Linked DNA regions of Homo sapiens. Each later gene encodes a partner of the first gene's protein in a complex. Links are inferred from orthologs where the notes say so. Each region holds a gene or a part of one and is shown on either strand. Other genes may lie near its edges.

Region 1 (7,018 bases):
GGCAGCTACTGTGAGGACCTGGTGGACGAGTGCTCACCCAGCCCCTGCCAGAACGGGGCCACCTGCACGGACTACCTGGGCGGCTACTCCTGCAAGGTGGGGGTCCCTCCTAGGGTAAGGGTTGTGGCCGGCACGAGTGTTGCCACACACCAGGCCCTGGCTGGGAGCTGGCCCAGTGGAGAAAACTGAACCTGATAGGCCCATGCACTGTTCAGTCTCATTAGGGGAGGGCTGGGGTAATCAGGGTAGACTGCCTGGAAGAGGTGGCCTGTGGAAAGCCTGAAGGAGGGTACCTATACTGAGAAGTGGGATGGGGTTTTCCCTTCCCCTAGATTGTGTCTGGGCTTGGCCAACACCTACCCTGAGGCCCTCACCTCTATCCTATGGGACGGGGTCCACCCACCCCCAACAGGCAGTGACTCCGGTCACCGAGGCCCCGCCAGGGTCTGTTGGGCTGGGTCTCTCTCCAGGTCTGACAGGAGCGAGGGGCCCGTGGCTTCGCTGGACCTGAGGGCAGCTCATGTGGCCCTGTCAGCCCTCACAGTGGGGTGTGGGAGCACTGCATCCTGGCGCCGGCTGAGCCGAAGGGCCCCTCGTTCTGTCGCCTGCACAGTGCGTGGCCGGCTACCACGGGGTGAACTGCTCTGAGGAGATCGACGAGTGCCTCTCCCACCCCTGCCAGAACGGGGGCACCTGCCTCGACCTCCCCAACACCTACAAGTGCTCCTGCCCACGGGGCACTCAGGGTAAGGGCCGCTGCACGGAGGGCTGGTGTTGGCCATCCATGGCCAGGGCAGGGGCAGGGCAGGCACCCCGGGACCGGCCAGAGGCATCCAGGAACCAGCCAGAAACTCCCATTTTCCTGTGTGAGGCCAAGGCCGACTCACAGCTGCCCAGGGAAAGGGCCCAGAGCGGGGGTCCCAGTGGGAAGGGCGTCTCCACGGCACCCTTGACACCTGCCTCTCCCGAGTGTCCGTGCAGCCCCAGACCTGAGCGCTCGTCTTCCGGGACGGACACGCGGCACGGCAGGGCCGGGGTGTGGCGGGCTTGGGCCACTGACGAAACCTGGCCCCGCAGGTGTGCACTGTGAGATCAACGTGGACGACTGCAATCCCCCCGTTGACCCCGTGTCCCGGAGCCCCAAGTGCTTTAACAACGGCACCTGCGTGGACCAGGTGGGCGGCTACAGCTGCACCTGCCCGCCGGGCTTCGTGGGTGAGCGCTGTGAGGGGGATGTCAACGAGTGCCTGTCCAATCCCTGCGACGCCCGTGGCACCCAGAACTGCGTGCAGCGCGTCAATGACTTCCACTGCGAGTGCCGTGCTGGTCACACCGGTGGGTGCCGCGCCCAGGCGGGTGGGGCGTGTGGGGCAGCAGGGTGAGCCTCTCACTGCCCTGCTCTTACCCCTAGGGCGCCGCTGCGAGTCCGTCATCAATGGCTGCAAAGGCAAGCCCTGCAAGAATGGGGGCACCTGCGCCGTGGCCTCCAACACCGCCCGCGGGTTCATCTGCAAGTGCCCTGCGGTAGGTGCAGGGGTGCAGGGAGGCAGGGGCCCGCCAGGGGAGACACCTGGAGAGGTCCACGTGGGGGCCTCGGGGCGCAGACCGGGCAGTGATCCTCCCGGCCTTCATCCTCCTCCTCACCCTGATGTCTTTTTTTTTTTTTTAGTTTCAATAAATGATTTTAGAGACATTTTAGATTTATAGAAAAATGGAGCAGGAAGTAGACTCCCTGGGGTGGCTGTCCCCTGCACGCAGTTCCCCTGGTTAGCAGCTTGCATCAATTTCACTCTGGATTTCAGTGATACATTGTTACCAACAGCAGCCCTTCCTGTACCTGGGGCTTGCCCTTGGCTTTGTGGTTGTGGGTTTGGGCTGAGGTATGACATGCCTGCCCACCCTCGCAGGATCACGGCAGAGAGTCCCTGCCCTAAAGTCCTCAGCACTCCACCAGTTTACCCCTTCCTCCATCTCCCGACCCCCTGGCACCCCCGATCTTTCTCTGTTGGTAGAATGTGTGTAAAGGGTTTTGCTGCTGGGGGCAAGGTTGCAGGCCGCCTCCCAGGTTAGAGGAGAGCGGTGGCACTGCTGGCCGAGGGCTGGGTGTGAGGTGGCGGGGGGGCGGGGGGTGGCCCACCCCGACACCGTCCTGTCTTCCCTCTCGGGCAGGGCTTCGAGGGCGCCACGTGTGAGAATGACGCTCGTACCTGCGGCAGCCTGCGCTGCCTCAACGGCGGCACATGCATCTCCGGCCCGCGCAGCCCCACCTGCCTGTGCCTGGGCCCCTTCACGGGCCCCGAATGCCAGTTCCCGGCCAGCAGCCCCTGCCTGGGCGGCAACCCCTGCTACAACCAGGGGACCTGTGAGCCCACATCCGAGAGCCCCTTCTACCGTTGCCTGTGCCCCGCCAAATTCAACGGGCTCTTGTGCCACATCCTGGACTACAGCTTCGGGGGTGGGGCCGGGCGCGACATCCCCCCGCCGCTGATCGAGGAGGCGTGCGAGCTGCCCGAGTGCCAGGAGGACGCGGGCAACAAGGTCTGCAGCCTGCAGTGCAACAACCACGCGTGCGGCTGGGACGGCGGTGACTGCTCCCTCAACTTCAATGACCCCTGGAAGAACTGCACGCAGTCTCTGCAGTGCTGGAAGTACTTCAGTGACGGCCACTGTGACAGCCAGTGCAACTCAGCCGGCTGCCTCTTCGACGGCTTTGACTGCCAGCGTGCGGAAGGCCAGTGCAAGTAAGGCTGCGGGGCTCATGGGGCTGAGGGAGGACCTGAACTTGGATGTGGCCTGGCTTGGGCCCGGAGGCCAGCATGCAGTTCTAAGGCTCTGCTCAGGGGGTGCAGGGACGTCCCCCGCGGCTGGCCAGTGGGCTGGAGGCACCGGACGGCGGGTGCGAGGCCCCCCGAGGAAGGCGGCCTGAGCGTGTCCCGCCCCCCACAGCCCCCTGTACGACCAGTACTGCAAGGACCACTTCAGCGACGGGCACTGCGACCAGGGCTGCAACAGCGCGGAGTGCGAGTGGGACGGGCTGGACTGTGCGGAGCATGTACCCGAGAGGCTGGCGGCCGGCACGCTGGTGGTGGTGGTGCTGATGCCGCCGGAGCAGCTGCGCAACAGCTCCTTCCACTTCCTGCGGGAGCTCAGCCGCGTGCTGCACACCAACGTGGTCTTCAAGCGTGACGCACACGGCCAGCAGATGATCTTCCCCTACTACGGCCGCGAGGAGGAGCTGCGCAAGCACCCCATCAAGCGTGCCGCCGAGGGCTGGGCCGCACCTGACGCCCTGCTGGGCCAGGTGAAGGCCTCGCTGCTCCCTGGTGGCAGCGAGGGTGGGCGGCGGCGGAGGGAGCTGGACCCCATGGACGTCCGCGGGTGAGTGAGACCCGGCGCCCACGGTCAATCCCCGCAACTCTCCTGGGCCCTCCCCGACGGCCTCCCTGCCCCTCACGGCCGGCGCCATGGCAAGCAGTACTCTCCCCACTTTATGGTAAAAGAGACGGAGGTTCCGAGAGGACCTGGGACTTCAGGGCCTGCGCAGGCAAGGAGTAGAGGCAGCATTCCAGCTCAGGGCCCTGACCCCACAGCCACACCCTTTTCCTGGGCCACTGCCTTCCCCTGGACAGGCGGCACTCCTGTGCCCAGTAGGTGATTTTGAGATTGAGCTGTGCCTTAGGCACTGGATACTACACTGATTAAAACTCAGCCCTCTGCCAGGCGAGGAGGCTCACACCTGTAATCCCAGCACTTTGGGAGGCTGAGGCAGGCGGAGCCCTTGAGCCCAGGAGTTCGAGACCAGTCTGGGCAACATAGGGAGACCTTGTCTCTGTTTTTTTTAAAAAAGTATTAAAAGAAGTAAAAAACAAAACACTCAGCTCTCCAGGGGTTCCCACAGGGCTGAACAGCCCCACCCCAGACAAGAATGCCGCTTGGTCATGGCGTCTGCCTGGCTTGGGCTGGAGAGGAGGCAGGTGGAGGTCCTGGGAGGGGGCATTGCTGGGCCTTGCAGTTGGAGGAGGAGCTGGTGGGGGTGGGGGGTCCCACGGTGGGAGAACACAGGCAGGAGCAGCTTGAGTGCAGGGGGCACCCCACAAGGCTCCCGCCCATGCCTACTCGATCTGGGGCAGCTGGACCCAGGAGCCAGGTTGGTTGTGCCCTTCGTGTGCCTGACCCTGGTGGGTTTGCCTGTCAGTTCTGCTGGCTTGGAGCAATCCTGGAGGTCAGAAGCATCATCTCACAGGCTGGATGGGATCCTGCTCACGGGAACCCAGTCCTGGGGAGCAGAGCTCACCCCCAGCCAGCCTCACCACACAGCCCACCACCGCTGCACCCACCCCCACCTCACGCCTGTGCTTCCTGCAGGGCCTGGGGATGGCTCCTGGGGGAGGACTGGGCTCCTGGCACATACTCTGTCCTGAGATGAGGAAACGTGTCTGTGGCACCAGCAGGAGCCAGAGAGGGTGTCAGGGCGGGCCAGGGAGAGCGCGTTGGTGGGTATCTGGGATGAGCCGTGATCAGCACTGGCCGGAGTCGGGGGGCTGGCACCAGTCCCCTGCAGGGTAGCTGCTGTCAGACCTGGCTTCCCACCACCCCAGGCTGCCTCACCATGTCCTGACTGTGGCGTCATGGGCCTCAGTGTCCTGCGGCAGCATCCCTGGCCGGTGGGCGGGGGAGGAGGAAGCCTCGGGTCCCAGCCCCTCTCTGATTGTCCGCCCAGCTCCATCGTCTACCTGGAGATTGACAACCGGCAGTGTGTGCAGGCCTCCTCGCAGTGCTTCCAGAGTGCCACCGACGTGGCCGCATTCCTGGGAGCGCTCGCCTCGCTGGGCAGCCTCAACATCCCCTACAAGATCGAGGCCGTGCAGAGTAAGTGTGGCCCCATCCCGGGAACAGGCTCTGCCTGCAGGGGGTGCCATCCCCCCGTGCCCCAGACACGCTGGCTGTTTGTGCCAGTTGCTACCCACGGGTGTGAGCGTTGCCGTCCGAGTTGGGGTAGGGCTTTTCTGGAATTTTCTGAATGGCACTCCGCCCCCACCTGCGGCGGTCACAGCTGCCGGTGGAGCCACCTGGGAACGAGTCCAGCCACGGGAAAGTGGGTGCCTGCTTCTCTCCCCACCCTTTCCTCCTGAATTTTCTTTGTTGGGTATTATTTCAAAATCATTACGGCTTTTTTTAAAGAAAAAAAAAGAGAGAGAGAGAAGAATTGATCGGTGTCATGTGAAGTGTTGAAGTTTGTATCTTGAAAATCCCTCTAAATCCTTTGTCTTAACAGCTCAGTGCGAGTGCAGCGATTTGAAGTTGACTAATCCTCCTTCCTTAAAGGAGAAAAAAGTAAAAGCCGTCTCCAGATAGAGTCGGCTGGTGCAGGAGAGAATTTAGCGATAGTTTGCAATTCTGATTAATCGCGTAGAAAATGACCTTATTTTGGAGGGCGGGATGGAGGAGAGTGGGTGAGGAGGCGCCCGGACGCGGAGCCAGTCCGCCGCCCCCCGGCCACCAGCCTGCTGCGTAGCCGCTGCCTGATGTCCGGGCACCTGCCCCTGGCCCCCGTGCCCGCAGGTGAGACCGTGGAGCCGCCCCCGCCGGCGCAGCTGCACTTCATGTACGTGGCGGCGGCCGCCTTTGTGCTTCTGTTCTTCGTGGGCTGCGGGGTGCTGCTGTCCCGCAAGCGCCGGCGGCAGCATGGCCAGCTCTGGTTCCCTGAGGGCTTCAAAGTGTCTGAGGCCAGCAAGAAGAAGCGGCGGGAGCCCCTCGGCGAGGACTCCGTGGGCCTCAAGTGAGCGGACGCCGCCCCTGCTTCTGGGTCCCCGGTGGGAGGTGGGACCTGGCCGAGCATCCTCACCGGGAGTCTGCCCCTCCCGACCCAGGGCCCACCTCCCACGCCAGGCCCGGGCCAGGGGTCTCTGGGGGCTTCCTAGGGAGCTCGCTCAGCCTCACTTCTCGACCCCTCACCCCCCAGGCCCCTGAAGAACGCTTCAGACGGTGCCCTCATGGACGACAACCAGAATGAGTGGGGGGACGAGGACCTGGAGACCAAGAAGTTCCGGGTGAGTCGCGAGGCTCCCGGGCTCCTGGGCTCCCGGGCACCTGCTGCCGGGCTGCCCTGACAGGCTCTGCTCACTCCCTCTATGTAGTTCGAGGAGCCCGTGGTTCTGCCTGACCTGGACGACCAGACAGACCACCGGCAGTGGACTCAGCAGCACCTGGATGCCGCTGACCTGCGCATGTCTGCCATGGCCCCCACACCGCCCCAGGGTGAGGTTGACGCCGACTGCATGGACGTCAATGTCCGCGGGCCTGGTAAGGGTGCCAGCAGCCAGGGCTTCCCTAGCCCCGTGGCCCACCTGCCTCTCTCCCCTAAGCCCCGAGGCTGGGGTACAGTTGATACTCTGGAAACTTAGAATTGGGGGTGAGAGCTTTCATCCTTGGGGTGTTTCCCATTCAGAGTAGACGTGGGGGGGTCCTGGAGTCCTCCTGTTCTTCCACCAACCCCTTCCTGGGGTGATACCGCAGGGCCACTCTGTCCCTGTAAATTACTCTTTTCTGAAACCTTCTTGAGACATGGAAAGCGTTGATTTTCTTTTTCTTTTTTTTTTTCTTTTTTTTTTGTTTTTGAGATGGAGTCTCGCTCCGTCACCCAGGCTGGAGTGCAGTGGCACGATCTCGGCTCCCTGCAACCTCCACCTCTCGGGTTCAAGCAATTCTCCTGCCTCAGCCTCCCCAGTAGCTGGGACTACAGGCGCCTGCCACCACACCTGGCTAATTTTTGTATTTTTAGCAGCGATGGGGTTTCACCATGTTGGCCAGGCTGGTCTCGAACTCCTGACCTCAGGTGATCCGCCCACCTCGGCCTCCCCCAGTGCTAGGATGACAGCGTGAGCCTCCGCATCCTGCTGAAGCATTAATTTTCTAACTGCATGCTTCTGGGGTCCTCTTTTTCCTGGGTGGATTTTGGGTGCCAGGTCTTGGGCAGGTCAGGAAGCAGTTGCCCGCCAGGAGTTTAAGCTGGATTCGG
Region 2 (7,356 bases), on another chromosome or scaffold:
GGCCCTGCCAGCCTGGGCGGCAGCTGGGGAACAAGAGAGAGGCAGAGTGAGGTGAGAGGCCTTGGCCAAGGGAGGGCTCCCACTCACCACTTCCTGTCCCCTACTCACAGGCACTCTGCTGGCTTGCTGCAGTAGCCATTCTGTTCATGACAGCCCGAAAGACAGATAGCTAAGGGAAGAACACAGAGCTGGGTGAGGCTGGGATACCAAGGACTCTTAAGCCCCATTCTCACCTGCTGGCCCTGGGGATCCCCTAGCTCTCCTGGGCCCTCTTCCTACTCCTGGCCTCCCAGAGGAGCCCCGAGTGTCTTAAAGTGAAATAATGGCACAGGGAAGGAGAAGCCAAACTGGATGGAATGTCATGATGGGGTTCTTGTGGGCTTTGGCATGATGGGAGGAGCACTGGGAAGAGACAGGAGGTCTGAGGTCAAGCCCACCCTCAGCATCCCTGAGGCCCAGCTAGTAGGAGGCCCAGACCCACTCTTCAAGGGAGGCAAGCTGTGACCAAGAAGCTCCACTGTGTTTCCTCAGGGGACCCTCCCCTTCCACACAGGTGGGAGCTTGACTGCTTACGCTGTTGGCAATATTCCCCAGTCCAACCGGGCAGGCAGGACAAGTTGCCATCTGGCTGGCACACATAGTGGCCGAAGTGGTCATTGCGCTTCTTGCACAGGCGGGAGCAGTTGTCTCCATAGTAGTTGTCACTGCAGATGACCCGGTAAGAGTAGCGCAGCCTTGTGAGGGTGCTGGTTTGCTCATCCAATAACCAGTTCTGACCCACAGCTAGGGAGCCCTGGATGGCGATCTTGCTGATGAGTGCATCTGGTGGCAAGGCCTCTGAGGGGGCAGAGGGTCGGGTCAGGGAAGGGTCGCCAGTCCCCAAGGGTGCCAGTGACGGCTGGCCAATGTCCTTCTTGGCTGTGATGATGGTGATCAGCCAACCAATCAGCCCAGTTATCCAGATGACCCCCGCCTGCCAGCAAGAACAGGCCAGAGGGACCCAAAGCCCCGCTACGTAGCTGCCCTACGTGTGTGCATGTGCAGGGGGCCTGATAGTATTCAAAAAGGGGACAATAGAAGGATGTTAAGATATCCCAGGGTCTTGGAGGCAGATAGGGAGGGGAAAGAGGAAAAGAGGTCAAAATGGAAAAAAGAGAAAAAGAAAGAAAAGCTCCCCAGGCTAGAGAGGACCCTGGGAGCAGGGGGTCCTTTGGTGCCCATTCAGGGGTTCTGCCTCCAGAGGTGGGTAATGGTTTTCTTTTTTCCTTTTCAAAGTGAGAATTGTTGTGCTGCTGAAATATCCTTTTCCTCTGTGTCAGAACAACATCCCAAAGCCATTATTCCCTTTCCAAAGGAGCGGAATTCGCGAAAGGTGTAAAATACAGGAAGGGGCCCGTCAGCGGCGCTGGCAGCTTCAGCCTTTCTCACCGCCGTACTCCCCGCGTTCCCACGCCAAAAATAACCCGCAGGAAACGCAATTGTGCTCTGAGTCCAGGCAGCGAGCGGAATCCGAGCGTCCAGCGCGGGGCGCAGCTCCAGGCCAAGCTAAGCGTCCTGCCTCCCACCCCCAAGCCCGCACTTCCCCCGCCTAGAACAGATTAACTCTTTCGGCGCTGCGCCGTGTCGCCCCCCTGTGGTGGCGGAGCGAGCTACTCACCTGGCCGCAGGTCGTCTCCTGGCGCGTGCCAAGCTTCGATGATGAGCGAGAAGGTACCCTGGGAAAGGGGGTGGGGGGACGGAGAGATGGCGAGATGAGCAAGCGGGGAGAGGTGGGGGTGCCTTGCGGCAGCCTGTTTAATTAATCTAATTGCAGGATTCAGTTACTGCGCCCGGGTCAACATAACGGGGCTGTGCACAGTGTAGCGCTTGAGCAGGGAAGGCGAGAGGAGAACCCCCGGTAGAGGGAGGGTTGAGAGACGGGAGAGTGTAAGGGAGAGCCACTGGAGGAGGGGGTGGTAGGGTACCGCCCCAGAGTGGTAGGTAATGAAAATCGTGTCCCAAGAGCTGGGGACGGGAGGACATAAACTGGGAAGACGGAGACTGGTGAGAGCCTTTTCTGGGATCAGTCTCAGGAGAGAGTCGGGAAGAGCCAGGAAAGAATGCATCCTGGGCTTTTTGGGGGTGGGGGTGTGTGTACAAGGAAATCTGGGGAGGGGGCTTTGGTCCCAGGGCGCCTCCTCTCTCGGCTTCTGCGACCTCCCAGTGCGCCCAGGCTGTGCTCACCGGCCAGGTGAAATTGAAGGGCAGTTGGAGAGGGTTGCGCCCCCCGCCGCTACTGTCGTCCCGGACAGCGAAGGAGTTGGTGCCCAATACCGGCGTGGAGACGGTCCCGAAGGTGCAGGGTCCGGGCGAGACGACCGCCTGGAAGTGCTTAAGGCAGACGCGGAAGAAAGTCCGGCAGCCGGGCTCGCAAGGCCGCCCACTGGCCAGTACGCCGCGCTCGTTGATGAACTCCTGCAGCTGCAGCTGGAAGACGCCGGAGCCGGCCGCGCGCTATTGCACAGGGACCGAGGGAAGGAGGGAGGGGACCGGTCAGCTCAGCTGGTGCCCGGGGCTGAGGCCCAGAGCGCGGCAGAGGGGACGGAGAGGGCGCGGGACGTGTTACCTGCTGCCAAAGTGCCACCAGCAGCAGTAGCGCCCAGCCAGAGGCGCTCCGGGACGCTGCCGCCATCCCCTCGGGCGTCGCTCTCTCCACCCGCGGGCCCTCAATCTGGCTCTGTTCGCGACGCCGCTTTCCCGCGCGTCCGCCAGCCGGCGGGGTCCCTGAAAAGAGGCGCTCCTCTCGGGACGCTGCTCCCCTTTGGCCTTCTCGCTGGCTCCGCTGCAGCTGCCGCTGTAGGTAATCCAGGTGACTACGGCTGGGCGGCGACCGCGCCGAGGACGCGTCTTCTGTCTAATCCTGGGGCTGCAAGCGGGCTAGTGCCGGTGTACGCTGCACCAAGGCGGCTGGGGCTGCGGCTCTTGGCCTCGTGTTCCCGGCCTGCGCGCAGCGCCGCTACTGAAACCTGCGCGCTGGGGGCCTTCCTTATATATATTGGCTCCTCTCCTCGCCGCCTGTCACTCAGACTCATGGTCATTCTCCCCTCCCCTCCCGGCCTCTAGCTGCTACAGTCCCAGCGCCGCCCGGAGGGGGCCTCCGCCCCCGCCGCTCCCCCCTCCCCGTCAGCCAGTCGGGCGCAGGTCCCCGCCCCTCCGTGCCGCTCCCAACCTCTAGGTCCCCCAGCTCTGCGCGTGCCGAGGTGACCAGTCCTCCGTGATGGCGGGGTTAAGGGCTGAGACCCTGGCCGCCGGAGGATAGAGGGGTTGCCCGGTAATGGGGCAGGAGGTGAGTGGGTGGTTCGGGGATGGTCTTGGGGGCGGAGACACTAGGCAGTCCCTGTAGGCTGTGCATCCGCAGCAGGCGCTAGTTACCTAGTGTTCCAAAGCAGGTAAAAAGAACTTAAGCCCGGAATGCAAAAACCAGCGCTAGGGAAATCCGATCTCCTTTTCCTTCCTGGAGCTTCTGGAGCCCTTGTCTCAACGGCCCCCAACCTATGAGTGCCCACCCACCACGCGTCCCCAGCGCAGCAGGGAAGCCAGCAGAAGCGTTAACCTCTCTGTGGCCACTCTGAGCAAGGCTAGGGGCTAAGGGTCTAAGGCTCGGGGCCCTCTCTGTGCACCTGTTGGGCGTCTCCCTCTCTAGCTAAGGGGGGGCGTGCCCAGCGCGTGCCTTCTCCCTTCTGCCCCCTGCCAGGGCTTGGCGCGTGCCAGAGACCCAGACGCGCGGTCCCTGAGGTGGGGGAGGGCGGGGCGTGGTCCCGGAGGTAGGAGGGGGGCGCGTCCTCAGCTGTATGGTAATGAGGTTCTGGCCCCGCCTCCAGCGCGTCCCCTCACCTGAGTCCAGCTTCAGTTCCTGCGCCCACTGCCTCCCCCCACCCCAGCAGCCCCAAGCCCCCGGCCGCGCCCTGTCGCTCAGCTGGGGCAAGGAGGAACTCTCCTGACGCCAGAGTTGGCTCAGGCCACTGGAGAATCAAGGTGAGGGACTGAGGCCGGGTCGGCCCGGGTCCTCGCCTCATAAGGCGGGATGTGGGGTGGAACTGGAGGCTTGCGGAGCTGTTTGAGTTTCAGGCGGCTTCCCAAGTCTCGCCCGAGAGGGTCCCCTGGGTGGCCCCACTCCTCCAAGCGGCAGCAGCGCAGCTGCTTTCTCGGAACCCGGCGTGATCCCCGGAGACCGCAGACCGGGGAGGGCCGGCTTCTCCCAGTCTCAGGGGTGCCGGGGAGCTCTCTCTTTGCGACGCCGAGGGCAGCGGGGGCCCTGTGGCTTCAGCTGTCAGCCCGCCCGCGAGGTGATGGCTGTAGTCGGGCGGTAAGATCAGCGCGGGGGGGGAGCCGGGACGCGGCGCGAACCCGGGGGAGGCGGTAAGGGTGGGGGAGCGGCGAGAAGCCCAACAGCTGCCAATGCCGAGCATGGTCTGATTTTTTTTTTTGAGTTGGGTGGTGGTGGTGGAGGACTGGGGGACGGGTGTGGTGGGGGGGGGAAGGATGAGAAACAAGAGGTTGGGAGCGTGGGTTGGGGGAGGGGCGAGGTGAGGAGACGGGCTCCGGGGTCCCCCACGCACGGCCACCCCTCCCAGCCACCATCTGGCGCGAGCGGGTTGGCGTGGGGAACCGAGGTGGGGCGGGGCGGCAGATGGGCCCAGGCTGCGCTCGGGAGTTAATGTAGGTTATGGGCAGGCGGAGTCCCAGGCCCGAGGGAGGGGGAGTCCGGGGCGTGCCTCCCGGCGATCCTGGCAAGTGGGCTCCCAGATCTTCTCTCCGCCTATACCCTATGGATCCCTGGACTTGCCTCTCTAAGATGCCAGCGGGTGCCCCTTGCTCCCCTCCAAGCTGGCATCCAGCCCTACCTAGCCCTGTCCTCTCTCAACTCCAAATCCTGGCCCAGGAGTTAATAAAAACATCCTCCTTTTCTGGCGCTGGTCCTGCTTACCTGACCCTCAAGGGAGACATCTAGTCCCACACAAGGCATCTCTCCCAATACTGGAAAATCTGGAACACTCTCTACCCTCATACACGCCCAGACTAATGTGCCCAAATGTACTTTGCAAATTATCAAGGACCAAACAAAAGTTGGGATTATTATCTTCAGAGAGGCAGCACCCAGGAGATCCCAGAGATCTAGAAAGGCTCTGACCAGAAGAGGAAAGGGTTAAATTCTCAGCATCAAAAGACATTCATGAAACACCTATTTGCGGAGGCGCTGTCCCAGAAGCTCATTCCCGGGCTAGGACACTGCCACCCTTGGCCCTGGGTACCTACGAGCGCTCCCACACGCTGCGGTCGAGCTTTGCCCACATTTGCTGAGCAGGAGAGGGTCATGCTGCGGGTGGGGAGCCCAGTGCGAAGGCCGCAAGTGTTTCTGTCAGCCCAAAACTGGGGCTGCGCCTTCCTTCTTCTCCCACTCGGGACTTTCGGACTTGCGGGCGGAAGAACGCTACACGCGTGGTCCTGGGATGGGAGGCCACCGATCACCGTGGGGCTGGACCCCCATCGAAGTCGGCTGCCCCCGCCCCTGACGCAGACCCTCCACAACAGCATGGAAAGGGTGCACAGATAGACCCAGAGTCCGAAAGACCACTGACCCTCCGCAGGCCCAGGGTTCCTCAATTCGACCCGCACCCTCAACACTCCCCAACGTCGGAAGCGGGCGCAGGGTCGAGGCCTGGCTTCATGAAAGGCCCACCGCCTCTGCCCCTAGAGGCCTTCTGCTTCTGCTGTCCCCCTACGCTTGGCCATTGCGCATAGTCCTCCAGCCATAAGAACCGGCACTGAGGACCGGGAAGCGCTAAGGTCGCCTTCCAGCGGTGTCCCCAAGCTGACCCCAGGTTATTGGGGCGCAACAGGAGCCTCGTAGAGCCTCGGGACTCCTCCCCCGCAGCGTAGCCTCTGTGCCCTCCCCACGGCCGCAGGCGCAGCTCCGAGACCTTCAGCGCGGTTTTGCCTCTCCTCTCCCCAACCCCCTCTCAGGGGACGGCGCTCTTCGCGGGGCACACTGCACCCGGGTAGGAGCGCGGTGGGGGCCGGGCCACCGTGCCTGCTGGGCAGACCAGGGGCGGGGAAGCAGGCCTGGCTTGGGCGGGGCGCTTAAGCCTTGAGGGGCGCCGCTGCGGTCGCTGCGGAGAAGGGGCCACGTGCAGGGAGCGGCGGCCGGGGAGCTGCACAGAAGGCGTGGAGATTTGCAAACTGTTGCTGCCACATGGCTGCTCCATTCGATCCATTCACATTGAAATGAGGCCGGCGCGTGCCTCATCTGCCGCAGGGCGCTGCCACGCGTCAGCCCGGCCCGCCGCGTGCCAACTGGGGCAGTGGGACTGGCAGAGCCTGGCAGCCGTGGGGGCGCAGCCCGGGGCCTGAGGCCAGGAGGGTGTTGGGGGAGGGAGTCGAGCTACCCTAGCCATTCAGGCGCCGCAGTTTCAAGGACCTTGGCCCTACAATTGGGAGTGAGCTGGCGAGAAAGGCCCAGGACCGACGGGTTTCAGAGGGGGGCCGGGATCGATGCCGCCGCTCCCCGCAGATGCGCCCCGGCAGGGCTACTCTCCATCTGCCGCTGCTCGCACCTGCCGGTCAATAAATCGATTTTACAATTTAATGCAGCAGCTTCCCGCCCGCCTGGGACAGATGCCGCAGCAGAACCACCTCCGCCCTCGCCCCTCCCCTCGAGGGGCGCCAGCGGTTAGGGACGGGATTCCCGCTCAGCAGGCGGTGCCCCGCGTGGCCTCCTTCACCTCTCTCTGGAGCCCCCACAAGGAACCGCCTGCTGAGGGTTTTTCCCGCGGGACAGAGTGGGTTCCCCATAGAACAGGCCTGAGACTGGAGAGAGGAGTGAGGAAGGTGATGACTTGGTGGTGGCCTTGAGAACTCATCTGGGGGCTTCAAGGGAGGAACAGGATGCAGTGACTGATGATAAGAAGGGCCCCGGTGAGAAGGAAGGGGTAGGGCATGGGCGCTGAGGGACACCGAACTCTGAAGAATCTTGGTCAGGGGGACTGAGCAGAGATGGGGAGGAGGCAGGAGGAACGAGTCTCTCCCCACCCTCCAGGTGAGTCTGGTGAATAAGCCTGACATGGACCTGCTTCTTGGCACTTCCTAACCATGTGGTCTTGGGCTTGTAACCTAACTCTAGCTCTACACTCAGTTTTCTCATCTGTGCAATGGGATAATAATAATAGGGATGGCCGGTGTGGTGGCTCATGCCTATAAGCCCAGCATTTTGGGAGGCTGAGGAGGGCAGATCACTTGAGGTCAGGAGTTCGAGACCAGCCTGGCCAACATGGTGAAACCCTGTCTCTACCAAAAAAAAATACAAAAAGTAGCCAGGCA

The links.
Region 2: the proteins of NOTCH1 (region 1) and DLL4 are in contact, whole or in part, in a crystal structure (PDB 4XLW), measured with the Rattus norvegicus proteins. The link is inferred for Homo sapiens from one-to-one orthologs. Residues at the interface, in NP_001099191.1 of Rattus norvegicus: Glu415, Leu418, Ala420, Asn421, Pro422, Glu424, His425, Phe436, Pro447, Arg448, Glu450, Ile451, Asp452, Leu468, Asp469, Gln470, Ile471, Ile477; in XP_006234827.1 of Rattus norvegicus: His65, Thr76, Phe77, Asn109, Phe110, Thr111, Pro113, Tyr180, Ser186, Arg187, Leu188, Lys190, Arg192, His195, Phe196, Tyr199, Lys216, Tyr217, Asp219.

Annotation. Positions count from the first base shown.
Region 1 is NC_000009.12:136,501,033-136,508,050, reverse strand, and holds part of NOTCH1 (neurogenic locus notch homolog protein 1 preproprotein), read left to right. Parts: coding exon 1-96; intron 97-613; coding exon 614-746; intron 747-1,077; coding exon 1,078-1,335; intron 1,336-1,411; coding exon 1,412-1,524; intron 1,525-2,169; coding exon 2,170-2,741; intron 2,742-2,946; coding exon 2,947-3,378; intron 3,379-4,720; coding exon 4,721-4,869; intron 4,870-5,562; coding exon 5,563-5,779; intron 5,780-5,962; coding exon 5,963-6,050; intron 6,051-6,137; coding exon 6,138-6,303; intron 6,304-7,018. UniProt on the Homo sapiens protein: Functions as a receptor for membrane-bound ligands Jagged-1 (JAG1), Jagged-2 (JAG2) and Delta-1 (DLL1) to regulate cell-fate determination.
Region 2 is NC_000015.10:40,924,984-40,932,339, reverse strand, and holds the start of DLL4 (delta-like protein 4 precursor), read right to left. Parts: upstream 3,001-7,356; 5' UTR 2,672-3,000; coding exon 2,606-2,671; intron 2,494-2,605; coding exon 2,224-2,493; intron 1,716-2,223; coding exon 1,658-1,715; intron 838-1,657; coding exon 574-837; intron 170-573; coding exon 109-169; intron 24-108; coding exon 1-23. UniProt on the Homo sapiens protein: Involved in the Notch signaling pathway as Notch ligand. Activates NOTCH1 and NOTCH4. Involved in angiogenesis; negatively regulates endothelial cell proliferation and migration and angiogenic sprouting. Essential for retinal progenitor proliferation.